2 linked regions of the Homo sapiens genome follow. The protein of the gene in region 1 interacts with the protein of each later gene in a pairwise test. Each region holds a gene or a part of one and is shown on either strand. Other genes may lie near its edges.

Region 1 (7,460 bases):
CTGTCACCCAGGCAGGAGTGCAATGGCACAATCATGGCTCACTGCAGCCTGAAACTCTTGGGGTCAAGGGATCCTCCCAAGTAGCTAGGACTACAGGTGCACACCACCATGCCTGGTTAAAGCATCTCTTTTAAGTGAAAAGATTTACGTAGCCCAGTTAGGACCATGTTGTTTTTCTTAAGAGATGAAAAACTTATCACAGATAAACTGATCAACTTACCGAAAATTCATCAGACATTTTCCTAAAAAAAGAAAAGAAATGAAGGAAGAAAGAAAAATTTCAAAATCAGTGTTCACCATTTCTTAAATATTCCTTAAGGAACTTTCTATGCATACATTATTATTACTTAAGCGGAATCTTATTTATGTAATGTGTTTTTCTTTACATAGGAAAGTTTTCCATAATAGTTCATACAGCTCTATTAACTTCATCCCTTTTAATGGCTGCACATCATACAAAAATGATTTGCAATTTAATTTACCTTCTTTTTGTAGCAGTATAAGTTGTTTTAAGTATGATACAGTGAACATCTCTCAACACTTCTTTGTTTGTGTGTGAGAATCTAACACCAGGAAAAAGCACTGGACATGGAATTTAGAGTCAACAGATAAATTTATCTAAAATCCATTTGAAAAGTCCATGCCAATTTACACTCATTTCTCTAACTCCTTTTACCACTGGATATTATTAAATTTATTGTTTATAATGACAATAGATATTAAAAATTAGCGTCTTATTTTAACTTACATTTCCTCGTCTTTTTTTTGGAGACAGGGTCTCATTCTGTCACCCAGGCTGGAGTGCAGTGGCGAGAGAGATCACAGCTCACTGCAATCTTGACCTCCTGGGCTCAAGTCATCTTCTTGCCTCAGTCTCCCTAATAGCCGGTACTACAGGTGTGTGCCATCATGCCCAGCAAATTTCTTAAAATTTTAAAAATTTATTGCAGAGACAGGTGTCTCACTATGTTGCCCAGACCCGGTCTCAAACTCCTGGGATCAAAGGACCCTCCTGCCTCAGCCTCCCAAAGTATTGGGATTATAGCCATGAGCCACTGTGTGTACTCCCAAATTTAAATTTATTGATGTCCTGGAGTACTTTTACCAATTTTTAAATTGAAGTGTAATTAGCACTCAACAAAATGCAGAGATCTTAAGTGTTCAGATTAACAAGCTCTGATAATTGTATACGCCCCTATAACCACCCCAAGATACAGAACATTTCTCACTCCAGAAAGTTTACTCATGCTCTTTTCCAATCAACTACCTTGCCTCATGGCAGTCAATTTTTGACTTAATTTTGCTTGTTCTTTGACTTTATATAAATAAAAGACTGTAGGTACTCTTTGCCTTTGATCATTTTATTACTCAGTAGCACATCTTTTTCTCTCACTGCTTTGTAAGATACTAAGCAGACTAGCTTTCATATATGAGATTAAAATTTTTTGGCCGGGTGCAGTGGCTCACGCCTATAATCCCAGCACTTTGGGAGGCCGAGGCAGGCGGATCACGAGGTCAAGAGATCGAGACCATCCTGGCTAACACGGTGAAACCCCGTCTCTACTAAAAATACAAAAAAACGATTAGCCCAGTGTGGTGGCGGGTGCCTGTAGTCCCAGCTACTTGGGAGGCTGAGGCAGGAGAATGGCATGAACCTGGGAGGCGGAGCTTGCAGTGAGCCGAGATTGCGCCACTGCACTCCAGCCTGGGCAACGGAGGGCTACTCCATATCAAAAAAAAAAAAAAAAAAAAAAAAAAAAAAAAAAATTTCTCCAAAATTCCTTTTATCTGTAGATCTCTTAAAGGGCATATTTTGGTTATACAAAAGTTTTAAATTTCATGTCATCAAATCTATCAATGTTTTCCTATACGTGGCTTCTGGATTTTGTGATATATTTACAAAGGCCTTCCCTACTCTGCCTTGCTTTCATATAGTATTTTTATGGTTTAACTTCTTGTTTAAAACCTTTAAATTCTTCCAAACAATAATTATCAACTATCTATCTTTTCTCAGCTAATTGGACAAGCTACCTTTACTACACTATACTGCTGCCATTTATAACTAGCATCTATCCAATATTTACCATGAAACATGGAACATGGTGGTGTACTGTGCACCACCTCACTTGGTAGCTCCAGAACCCAGATACAAATTTTATTTTCACCCCCAGTTTACAGCTGGAGAAGAGGAAGCTTGGCAAGTTAACTTGTTTAAGGTCCCAGAGCTAATGACAAGGAGAGAAGCAGTTCAAACCCAGTATGACTCCAGAACTTAGGCTCTTAACAAGCAGGCTATAGAGCCTCCTTCATTTCCCACAGATATTGTGGACTTTATTCTTTTCTTTTTGAAACAGTCTTGCTTTGTTCCCTGGCCAGAGTGCAGTGGCACCATCATAAGCTCACTGCAGACTCGACCTTCTGGGCTCAATCGATCCTGCCCAGCTAGTTTTTTTGTAGAGATGGAGTTTCACCATGTTGCCCAGGCTGGTCTTGAACTCCGGAGCTCAAGTGATCTGCCTGCCTCGGCCTCCCAAAGTCTTGGGATTACAGGCGTGAGATACTGTGCCCAGCTGACTTTATTCTTTTCTACTGGTCTGCAACTGTACCATTCCATTTTAATTACAGAAGCTTTACAATATATTTTAAATAAACATTAATGTGAGTCACCCTACTGTCTTTTTTTTTTTTTTTTTTTTCAGATTTTCCTATGTATTTTTATTTTTTCCAGATCGTTAAAAAAAAAAATTAATGTGTTAGCATTCTGGTTGGAAATGTATTATATTTACAGATTAATCTAGGGGAACATCTATTTAAAATGTCAAATCATCTCGTTCAAGAACAAGGTATAGTATAGTCCCTCGGTACCTGAGGGAGATTGGTTCTAGGACCCCCATAGATACTCAAATCCCAGGATGCTCAAGTACCTGATATAAAATGGTGTAGTATTTGCATATAACCTATGCACATCTTCCCGTATAAATCATCTCTATATTATTTATAATACTTAAAAGTGTGAATACTATATAATTATATTAACTTATATTTTCTATGGTTATTTTTATTGTTTCCCCCAAGTATTTTTTTTTTTTTGAGACAGGGTCTCACTCTGTTGCCCAGGCTAGAGTGCAATAGCATGATGTCAGCTCACTGCAACCTCCATCTCCTGGGTTCAAGAGATTCTCCTGCCTCAGCCTCCTGAGTAACTGGGATTATAGGCAAGCGCCGCCATGCCCGGCTAATTTTTTGTATTTTTAATAGAGACAGGGTTTCACCACGTTGGCCAGGCTGCTCTTGAACTCCTGGCCTCACGTGATCCGCCCGCCTCAGCCTCCCAAAGTGCTGGGATTACAGGCATGAGCCACCGCACCCGGCTCCCTGAATATTTTCTACCCGCAAATGCAGACACAGAGGACTGTTTAGTTCCTGTCCTTTTCATGTAGTTTATTTTCTTGATCAGATCTCCTATATACATTTCTTTTAAGGGATTTCTGTTAAACTTTTCCCTGTGGTTGTAAATAGGCTCTTTTCTTCTACTGTATTTTCTAATTGTTCGTTCATATATGGGACAGGGTTTTAAAATTTTAGTCTATAGCAGGTCCTCGAAAGACGTTTCATTCAACTTTGTTTTGTTATAATGTTGATGAGAAGAAAAAACAAAAAGTCTCAGCTGAGGTCACTGTCTGTGTGAAGCTGGCTCATTCTCCCATCTTTATGGGTCTTCTCCAAGTACTCCAGTTTCCTCCCATATCCCAAAGATGCACATGAATGGATGTGTCTACGCGGCCCAGTCTGTGAGCGTGGGTGTAGGTGAGAGCACCCTGTGCTGGGATGGCGTCCAGTTCAGGGCTGGTTCCCAACTTGGACTCTGAATTGCCAAGAAAGGCTCCAGCCATTGAGACCCTGAACTGGAAGAGGGAGGCAAATAATTATCTTTTTATTAATCTTTCTTAAATGTATACACAGCTCACATTCATTCAATTTTTTTTTGAGACAGGGTCTTGCTCTGTCACCGAGGCTGGAGTGCAGTGGTGTGATCACAGCTCACTGCAACCTCCACCTCCCAGGCTCAAGTGGATCCTCCCACCTTAGCCTTTGAGTAGCTGGGACCATAGGCATGCTAATTTTTAAAATTTTTAGTAGAAATCATTTAAATTTTTTTTTTTTTTTGAGATGGAGTCTCGCTCTGTCGCCAGACTGGAGTGCAGTGGCGCGATCTTGGTTCACTGTAACCTCCGCCTCCTCAGTTTAAGCGATTCTCGTGCCTCAGTCTCCTGAGTAGCTGGGACTACAGGTGCGGGCCACTACACCCACTAATTTTTGTATTTTTAGTAGAGACGGGGTTTCACCATGTTGTCCAGGATGGTCTCCATCTCTTGACCTTGTGATCCGCCCACCTTGGCCTCCCAAAGTGCTGGGATTACAGGCGTGAGCCACTGCGCCCAGCTCATTTAAATGTTTAATACTAGAAGTGTTTTGGGTTTTATTTAAAAGTTTAGTGATGTTTTTGTTACCAGAAATATGCCATAGGAATTTAACTCTTCTTTATATTAATTAACCTAGGGTAGGAAGCATCATTACTGAATTATTTTATTCTTCAAAGTTTCTCACTTGATTCTCTGGTATTTCCAGATAAAAAATACGCCATTTGCAAAAAATAACTTTCCTTCTCTAATATTTATGCATCTTTTCTGTTTTGCACTTGCTAGGACTTAAATAATGAAATGTTGAGTGATAGTGGGCACAGAGGTCTTGCTCCAACTCTCCTGGGAATGCTAATGTTTAAGTATGATTCCCATTTTTAGTTTGAGATTTTAAAAAATTACATTATTTTTAATTTATGCCTATGCTATTATTTATTCCTATTCTGTTAATAAAGAAAGCAAGAAGACATTAAATTCCCTCAAAAGACTTTTCAGTATCTAATGAATTGATCTCATGCTTTTTCTCCTTTGACCTATCAATACAGTATTAACATAGAGCCACCTTTGTATTCTTAGCATCTTATTTCTAATTATGATTTGATTATCATGAGGAAAGGACAAGAACATAAAGGACAAGAACCCAAGCCTATCCCAACTGCTATATCCTTTTTATTCAGAATATCAAAAAACATGGCCGGGCGCGGTGGCTCACGCCTGTAATCCCAGCACTTTGGGAGGCCGAGGAGGGCGGATCACGAAGTCAGGAGATTGAGACCATCCTGGCTAACAAGGTGAAACCCCGTCTCTACTAAAAATACAAAAAATTAGCCAGGCATAATGGTGGGCACCTGTAGTCCCAGCTACTCAGGAGGCTGAGGCAAGAGAATGGCGCGAACCCAGGAGGCGGAGCTTGCAGTGAGCTGAGATCAAGCCACTGCACTCCAGCCTGGGTGACAGTGCAAACTCCGTCTCAAAAACAAAAAAACAAAAAAACCCACATACAACCCATTCCCATGTTAAGGTTTAACGTCAATCACATCACACAATAAAATTTTTAGGACTAACAGTGTAGAAAATATACGGTAAGTTGTAAGGCTAACATGCTTTTTAAACAGGGTTAGCCTTTCTGAAATAGAAAATGATTCTGTATCAAAGTTCATATTAATTCTGGAGTTGAGAATCAAAGTGAACCAAATGGCCTTGACTGTTCAGGTTTTCAGAATTATACAGTTACCTAGTCATGGAATTACATAAATTATTCTACAAGTTAATAATATTCAACTGATTCACAACACTACTTCAAAATTTTAAAGTTCAAAATCCAAGTCTGGAAGATAGGGGAGGTGCTAGAATCTTGTGATTAAAAAACAAAGCCCTAAGCATAGGAATTAGTAACAAGTTCTGTTCTACGGCACTGTCTTAGTAAAGTGACCAGCTCTCCATTCCTAGAATAAACAGCGTTCATGTTAGGGTGATCCCCCCTTATCTGTGGTTTTAATTACCTAAGGTCCGAACATATTAAATGAAAAATTCCAGAAATAAATAATTCGTAAGTTTTTTGTTTTGTTTTTGAGATGGAGTCTCGCTCTGCCACCCAGGCTAAAGTGCAGTAGTGTGATCTTGACTCACTGCAACCTCCGCCTCCCAGGTTTAAGTGATTCTCCTACCTGAGCCTCTCAAGTAGCTGGGATTATAGGCACGTGCCACCACGCCCGGCTAATTTTTAATTTTTGGTAGAGACGGGGTTTCACCATGTTGGCCAGGCTGGTCTCAAACTCCTGGCCTCAAGTAATCCGCCCACCTCAGTCTCCCAAAGTGCTGGGATTAGGCATGAACCACTGCACCTGGCCAATTCCTAAGTTTTAAATGGGGCAAGAGCATGTTCTGAGTAGCAAAATGAAAGTTTGCCCCCTCCTGCCTAGGACGTGAATCATCCCTTTGTCCAGTGTATCCATGCTGTATACGCTATCAGCCCATCTTGGTTATTAGATCTAAAAAACATGGTATACTTAGGCTTCGGCAGTGTATACAGACTTCAGTTTCAGGGATTCATTGGGGAGTCTTGCAATGTGTCCCCCTAGGATAAGGGGGAACAACTATAATTGGAAGCATTCCAATTTGTTCTTTGGAGAATACTTTCATTAGAAAAGGTGAAAAACAGTTGGACATGAACGTTTCAATATGAGGAGAGTTGCAGAACATAAAAAGTTTAGGTTTTCTAAAAAGCTATTCTAAGCCGCGCTTGGTAGTGTGCACCTGTAATCCCAGCTTCTCAGGAGGCTGAGGTGGGAAGACCGCTTGAGGCCAGTAGTTAAGAGACCAGCCTGGGCAATATTAGTGGCACTCTGTCTCAAAAAGAAAAATAAATAAAAATATAAAGCTATTCCAAAATATCTGAATCATCGCTAATTATTAAGATGAGGCCAATGTAACCTTGAACTCATAAAAACAATTTATACTCAAGAAAGGCTTTCTTTTTTTTCTTTTTGGAATAATCTAAAGCTATTATTTCCAAAACTTTGTTACCATTTTATAGCATGATCCACCCATCATCTGAAAAACAATACTTTTTATTCTTTGAATAGCAAGAATAGTAATTTTAAAACAGTACAAAATGTCTTTTGACATACACTAGAAAAGTAAAACATAACATTTTTGGAAACTCTCATGGCTGTTAGGGTAAAAATCATGGGTCAGGGAGGAGGGTGGTTAAGAGAGTTGAACTCCATGAATTACCAGTGGAGTTCATGGATATTTCAGACAGCCTTCAAATTGTGATGGAGTGATAAACAGTATGGGACTACACAGTGATGAAACCCGGACATGAATCCTTTTGACGGTTATCTTTTGACAAAAAACTTCTCAATAAGAGACCATTTTCCATCTGTAGAAGTTATAATTCCTGCCCACTGCACAGAAAATAGTAACACACTTAATCTATAAAGTGCTATATACATGTTAGATATTTGTTAGGCGAAATTAAGCGAAATCAAAATTTTTGGGTTGATTTGTTTAGTATGGGGGGATGATATGTATCGT
Region 2 (7,857 bases), on another chromosome or scaffold:
TCCTATCTCTTTTCTCAATAGCAGAAACATGTTTTTCAAATTCAGCCCTACTCAGAACTCTAGTAAGTAAAACTGATAAAAGCTAAACAGCTCTGGCTGAAATGGATTTTGGGGCCCAGCAACCAGCCCACTTGACTCCACAGTGACCCCTGAAGCACCTTGAGGTATATGGAGCATAGTGTGAACCCCAGATTGAAGCCAACAACAACAAAAACAACAACAACAACAACAAATCCCAACCTGAAGAAGTACATGTTAAGAGCAGCCTGATTTGTATAATGCATCTTTCATTTCCCTGTCTCCCATCACATTGGATCCTCATTATCAACTCTGAGGTAGACAAGGCAGCACATATCACCCTCAATTTGCAAATGAGGAAGTAAAGGCCAAATGGAGTTAAGCAGCTGGCCAAAGGTGCACCAGTTCAATTTTCAGCCAAGTGCAGACTGGAAGTCGAGTCTGTCTCCATTAACTCTGTGTGACCTGGCAAAGAGGATGCCATCTACTGGAAATTGCTACTGACCCTTGGTCCACAAAGTGGACAATCAGCTTCTTGGCCATTGAGAGCAGAGCACAGCCCCATGGGCCCTCCTGCCAAGGCCCTGTCCCAGAGCAGATGGCAATGAGCAGGGGAGAAGGGCTCAGTGCCACTGAAGGGCCTGACAGCAGGATTTTAGCTGTAGATGGGCCATTCCTGTCTGAGCCTTGTCATGCTGAGCACAGGGCAGGGAGGCAGGACTAGCCAAAGTGCCTTCCACCTTCATCTGCAGTAAGTAAATGAGCCCACAGAGGGACAGCAGGTAGTGTAGAGCTGGGTGTCATTTACACTTTGCTTTTCTTCTTAGCTCTTGCTTAGGCATCCCTGAAACCCGAGGCAGCTGATAAATGCCTGAATGGCTCCCCAACTCCAGAGCATCTCTGAACTGAGCTGTAGCATGTGTTGGAGCAGGCAACACTTAATTATCGGTTAGTCTTTAATTAGCTCTTAATTATTAACACTTAATCCATCTGTAAAATGGGGACACTAATACCTGCCTCACAGGGACTCTGGGAACATTAATTAAGTTTACAGTCCACTTTGAAGATGCAAAACGTGAAATAAGTAAGTGCTCAACGGCGGTATTAATAACCACAGCAGATTTACTTTCTTTTCCTAATTTCCCTTTTTCCTCTCTGCTCCTTCCTTTCCTTTCGAATATCCATCCTCAACAATATCTGCCCAACTTTGCCCTGATGGAGAAACACTTAGCTCTGTGTTTCCCAGACACAGGATTTCCCATCCCGGAAACGGGCTATTTACAGCCATCTTCCCGCACTTTAATTTTCTATTATGTCCTCTGAATATGTCAGTGCCTTCCCAGTAAATATTTTGATGTGTGCTCTTGCAGCAGCTTCTGTGGAGGCTGAATGGGACAGCTGCTCCCTGTATTAGGGAATTCCAGATGTGATTTAAAACCATCAGACTCATCCATGTGAATGCCTAGCCTTTAGGTGGGAGAGGGGAAGGATCTTCTAGTTGCTTCTGGGGAAAGCCACAAGCCATATAACCCTTAGCCTTAGCTAGGGTGGTTTTTCAAGGACCTCAGATTCACATGCGTTTAGGATGAGAAATGTCTGCTTAACGGGCTGGTGAAGAGGCAGCCTGGAATATAGCCCTAATCTGACTCTTCACCCACAAAACTTCAGAACTTTGGTCAGCTCTTCTATAAAGCTTGGACAAAGGACCATGGAGGGGGCAATATACAGCCTTTAGGGTTTCACCAGCCTCAACAGTGGGCCAGAACATTCCCCCAGAAGGTCAGACTTCATCTCCTCCCTCCTCCCTTGCTGCCAATGGAGTAGGGGGGTACTTACTCTTCTTGAAAGCTGAGCTCATTGCCTCTTAGAGTTCCAACCACAGGGACAGAGAGCTGCTCCATGGAGGTCCAGGGCTGTGAGGCCTCAGGCAGGCCTTGAACTCTCTTCCAGATTTCATGGCAAGTCTTGTCTAGGCTGTCTTGGGGTGTGTCCTGGTGGATCCAGATGTATCTGGGGAATGGGCCCAGGGCGCAGGGGCCCTTGGCCACCAGGGCCGAGGATGAAGGAAGCCCATTCCCGCTGGCCATCCTCCTCCTCTCTTTCTGGAAGCCCCTCTGTCCACCCAGGGCTAGAACACAACCACCACCACCCCTCATTCACCAGAAAGGGAGATGAGGATGGGGCTTGGCAGAAGTGGGTCAGTTCTGTCTGGCTTTCGCTCCAGCAAGGTGGTTAGGTTCAGAGGCCTTCTATTTGTGTGGGAGGGGTGGGTGGAGGACAGCTTTCTTTTGGGGAGGGGAGGGCTTATTTTGATTTGTTTTTATTTGCTCTTTCCTGACTTTTGCCTCCCTCCCCCTCTCCCTTAGAAGAAAATATTTAAAAGTCAACAAAAACCAGTAGCTTAGGAACAGTGGAATGCTGCGGAGCTCAGGAACCAGGCGCCTGGGCGGGCAGAATGACATCTGGGAACAGCTGGAAGGGGAGGGCTGGCTCTCCCCACAGTCCCTGGCACTGCCCCCTTGCGACGCCGCCGTGACAACTTTCGGCGCCTGGGCTCAGCCCATGCTGTCCCGCTAAGCCACGCGGAGGACTGGGTGCGGGCCTGGCACCATTGTAGGCACTCGGGGGGCGGGGCCCCGCAGGAGGCGCTCGCCTGGGCGTTCCCAGGGAGCCCCTCGCAGAGCGAGCGTCAACGGCCCGACTCCCACCCCCGGCCCAGGTCCTGCTTTTCTCTCGCCCTACCCCTCCTGCTCCCGGTCTCCCGCTGCTGCTCTGCTGCCCCCGGAAAGAAGGGATGAGGCGTGTGTGGATGGGCCCACAGCCCTTAGTCCCCGGCCCCCAGCAGACCCCTGCCCCAGCCGCGCCGCGCTGCCAGGCGGGCACCGGGAAGGGCCCAGCGGCTCAAGAGCGCGCTGACTCGGCAAGGCAGGCTGGGCCGGGCGGCTCCCACCAATTTGCCTGCCAGTAGCTCCCACACCCTCGCCGTCGTCGAGCGGGGGAATTCTTTCTGTGGGTTTCAAACGCAACGGCTCGGTGCGCGGGGCGCCCTGGGTTCGGAGCCCAAGACCCGCCGGTGGGGTGGGTGGGGGTGGGGCCCAAAGGACCCCAGAGCGCTTCGGGGGATCAGAAGTCAAAGCCAAACGCGCCGCCGCCCCACTTCGCCGCTCCACACAAATCTCAGCTCCTGCCTGGGGGTCCCCCGGCAACCTCGATTTTAATCCTAACTGCCATTTTATGGGGCGCTTGCCCTGTGCCAAGCGCTGGGCTCACATTCAATCCTATTAAAGCTCGTGAAATTAGTACCACTTTTTATTATCGTTCTACACGGGAGGAAAGCGAATCTCAAAGTCATAAGGGATTGCGTCCAAGGCCCCCTGAGAAAAGGGAAGCTGAGACTCAGACCCCAGCACTCTAGGCCTGATCTAGCCCTTGACCACTGAGACAGCTTCAGTAGGTGGGTAGGAGCAGGAGTAGGAGGTCCGAGGTGCAGGGAGAAGGGCTAAGTTAGCTGTTTGCTGATCAACAGGCCCCTACCCTCACTGAAGCGGCTTCATTCAATTGGGCACTGACACAGTACCTCTGCTGAGGGAGACTTTCTGGTTCCGAGAGTCAGGGGGTTGCTTCTCTAGCAATTCCCCTGAAAAGGAAAAGCAAGAGGGTGGAGACGGAAGAAAGAAGAATGGACACAAATAGAGGAAGATGGCAGTCTATAAATGCAGGGCTGGGTTGAATCCTGACACTCATTTCCGAGCTGTGTGACCTTAAGAACTTTCTGAACTTCTCCCATCCCCATTCATAATTCCCCCAGTACTGATGCAACCCCTCCTCTGTGCCCGATGAGTTGCTGGGCACTGAAGAAGCATAAGGGTGGGCAAAAATGGCATGGTCCCTGCTCTCCTGGAGCCTGTATACTAGCGAGGAGAGATCGATGCAAACCAGCCAAGCGAGTAAAGCAGCAATAATTACAGATGCAATGGGACTCTGATGGAAAATAACTATTAGGTTGGTGCAAAAGTAATTGCGGTTTTTGCCATCACTTGCAATGGCAAAAACCACAATTACTTTTGTACCAACCTAGTAACAAAGTGAGGCACTGGGGAGAAGAGGGGAGGCAATATTCCATGGTGGTCCAGGCCGACTTCTTTGAGGAGAAAAATTTGAGAAGGATGAGAGGAATTCCTTTTCTGTAAAATGGTGTTAATAAATTATGAGGATCATGTTTCTGGCACATAGTAGGCACTCAAAAAATATGTGTTGGATGAATTAATGGTATACTGTATGTAAAGTGCCTGGTATACAGTAGGTGCCCAATACGCAACCTTGCTCTTTACAGAGGGGCTGAGTTCCTGGAAATGTTTACTCTAAATTTTGAAATCTGAGCTTCATTCTCCTTTGATTTTCATTACAAAATTGAAGATGTGTTCCTTTGGGGAAAATTCTGAGGGCCTAGACTGAATAAAATTATAGTTAAGAATGTAGAAAACCTTTTAAAATAGTGTATTTAAAGGAAAAGTGATCATTTCTGATGAAATATTAATAGTTCTGAAAATGTCACTCAGTGTTTGTGCTGCTTGGCATTTGGTTGGCTAACACCTTAAGCTTAGAGCAGAACGCCAACGACCCTGCACTGCCCAGGCCCCAGGATTCTGGAAGTTAGCCAGCTCACTCACTCTTCCTGTTCCCTCTCCCCCTCAGCAGGAGACCAGGCAACGGGGGCTAAATCAGAAAGGACTGCAAAAAAAAAAAAAAAAAAAATCAAATACAGCAGGGATACGGAACAAAGATAGAGCATGTTTTTAGAGTGCACAGACGAGATTTCTAGAAAATTCTGCAAAAATCTTAAGTGATGTACTTAGAAATAGTATAAAGCTATGTCCATATGGTAGCCACTAGCCACATGGGGTTGTTTTAATTTTAACTTTATTTTTATATAAATTAAATGAAAAATTCAGCTCCTCATTTGCATTAGCCACATATTATGTGCTCAGTAGCCACATATGGCTAGTGGCTACCATATTGGACAGCACAGAGAACATTTCTTATCATTAAATACATATTCTCGGGAACCAGAGTCCCTGGGTTCAGATTCTGAGTTCACGTTTTCTGGCAATGTAAGCTTAGGCAAGTTACTCTGTGCCTTGGTGTATTAGTTTGGTAGGGCTACCATAACGAAGTCCACAGACTGTGTGGCTTAAACAACAGAATTTTATTTCCTTGCCATTCTAGAGGTTAGAAGGCCAAGACCAAGATGTTGGCATTGTTAGTTTCACTCTGAAGTCTCTCTCGCTGGCTTGCACTTGGCTGTGTTCTCCCTATGTCCTCACATGGTCTTCCCTGTATATGTGTCCCTGTCCTAATCACTCCTTTAAAGGACACCAGTCATATTAGATTAGGACACACCCTAATGGCTTTTTTCTTTTTTTTAATCTTAGCTACCTCTTTAAAGGACTCATCTCCAAATACAGTCACATCTGAGGTATTTGGTTTAGGATTGCAGCATATAATTCAGCCCACAACATTTGATTTCTTAGTCTGTAAAATGGGATGATAATGAAGAATACTTGCTTTGTAGAATTACTACAGATGTTCTATTACTAACCAATTGCTTAACACATGGAAAGTCCCTTGAACAACAACTGACAGATAAACGTGTTATACAGTTGTTTGCTTGTTGATTACACTGAAATGCATGCCTTTGGAGTTTCTGAATAGCAGCTTTTGTGTTTTGTGTAGAGAGGGAGAATTGTGTTGTACTGGGGAAGTTGTTCTGTGATGGAGAAACGAATTCACATAATCACTTACGCCTTTCCAGGCTTTGTTCATTTTTGAGCATCCATCATGGGTCAAAATTGTGAAAGACACAGGGATTAGAGATGATGAAAAAGATGTCTACCCTAGACAGAATCACCTAGTGACAGAGGCGGGGCAAAGCATTCCATAAGTGCCTGGTGCAGAGCAGTGTGATATAAACTGACTTATTCCAGTTTCCATCCAACATGGAGTTATGTTCCTCCAACACATGTATCTATGCCCAGCACTGTTTGAGGTGCTGAAGATAGAGTAGTGAAGAAGAGGAGTTTGGTCTCTGTCTTTTTTAGAGTTTAAAGTGAAGCATTTAATGGTCATGGACACCATTTAATCTGTAAATTATTTTTAGCTTGGAAAACTTCTTGAATTCCCCCTGACTACTTACATTACCCTGGGCAGGTTGGTTTAACCTCAATGTCTCCATTTGCTCATCTATGAAACAGAGACAATAAAATACTGACCTCATAGACTTGTTTTACGATAATGAAATAATACATGTAAAGTGCTTATAATAGCTTGGCTAATGTATGTATCCAGTGAATGTTGGCTATCATTATTTAGAATTCTGGGATTCTTAGCTTTTCTCTGTGGAACCAGGAAGGCCTAAGGAGGAGGCAATTCTCCTTACCTCCCATCCAGTCAAAGCCTCTTCTCATCTGGCTTTCATCTCTGACACAAACATGGCTAGGCTGGAAAACTCAGAAACGTGGGAATGGCCTAGGCTCTTTTACAATCATCATATAGCCCCTAAGGCTGCTTACTCTTGTAGGTCCTTTTAGGTTCCTCATCTAACATATTTTAAACACACCCACCTCTCACCATAAAAATAACTTTTTGGCTATAGAGGAAAATTGAAAGGATTTTTGCCATTTTGCTTTTGAAAGTTTTTGGCCATGAGTAATTTATTTAATTTGTGATGGGCTGTGATTTCTCACCAATCTTAGTGCCTACTCGAGAAATCTTGTGCAGTGAGAAAACTCCAACCTACAAATTGTTACCAAATGCAATGAAATTTTTATGACTACTAAATCCAACAGTTAATGAAGTTGACATAATGTTATACTCTGCATTTAATTAAATATTTACTGATTTCCATGTGGCAGTTTTCTTCTTTGTATTGTGGGACTAATCATAAAATATTTAGGACTCAAACGCTTTTGTAGGTCCCTAAAACCCAGAGGGACCCCCATTCCCATGCGAATAATGCTCAATGGGTCAAACTGCCCAGAGGCAGGATCCATGCATAGGAGTATCCCAGGCAAATATCTTGGGGAATTAACCATCACAGCTAAAGGAAGAGGAGGTTGCAGCCATGTTTCATGGGAATGGGCCTCCCCCTCATGTTGTCTCAGCAACAGGACAGGGCTGCAGAGCAGCCAGCCATTTCTAGGACTTTGAAAAGGAACCTTGAATATTCTGCAAGCAAAGCTGTGACTCTGTGGCTTCTCTCTCCTGGCAACACCATCGGTGATCTCTGCCATTTCTTGGGGGTTTTTCCCTTACTATTGCCTTGTTCCTTGCCCACATGAGAGGAGGCAGTTAAGAGCTCGGGTGGTGGCAGCTGACACACTTGAATTGGAATTCCTACTCTACTACTTGATAAAGGTGGCTTTGTATATACTTAACTTCTCTGACATTTCTTCATCTGCAAAGTTGTAAAAACAATAGGTTTGGGGTAGGAAGAAGGTTTAAATATGGAAATGCACGTGAACTTCTCAACACAGTGCCTGGCTTATGGTAAACTCTCAATAAAAAGAAATGTGTAATTATGATTATCACTAGCTATTGTTATTGAGAGCCTAGCAATGTAAAAATGGCAGCCTATGAGATCTCCACTTAAAGTTAGGGAAAAGGAAGGTCCTAGATGACAGAATAAAAGAATATGGTGGTGGCAGTAGTGGTCCAGTGAGGTAGAAACAAAGTCAGAATTCAGCTGGCTTTCCTCCTGCTTTGGTTTTTCTGCCAGACCCCAGTAGTGATAGGTATGCCAAGGATTCCTGGCGAGGCCCTTTATGGGAAACCCTTCAGCTA

What was found.
Region 2: the proteins of MAPK1IP1L (region 1) and C1orf94 interact in binary tests that used the Homo sapiens proteins (3 or more experiments, as listed by UniProt).

Annotation. Positions count from the first base shown.
Region 1 is NC_000014.9:55,054,462-55,061,921, reverse strand, and holds part of MAPK1IP1L (MAPK-interacting and spindle-stabilizing protein-like), read right to left. Parts: intron 768-7,460; exon of another isoform or gene 751-767; coding exon of another isoform or gene 749-750; intron 243-748; coding exon of another isoform or gene 239-242; coding exon 221-238; intron 1-220.
Region 2 is NC_000001.11:34,172,107-34,179,963, reverse strand, and holds the start of C1orf94 (uncharacterized protein C1orf94), read right to left. Parts: upstream 3,058-7,857; 5' UTR 2,175-3,057; coding exon 1,855-2,174; intron 1-1,854.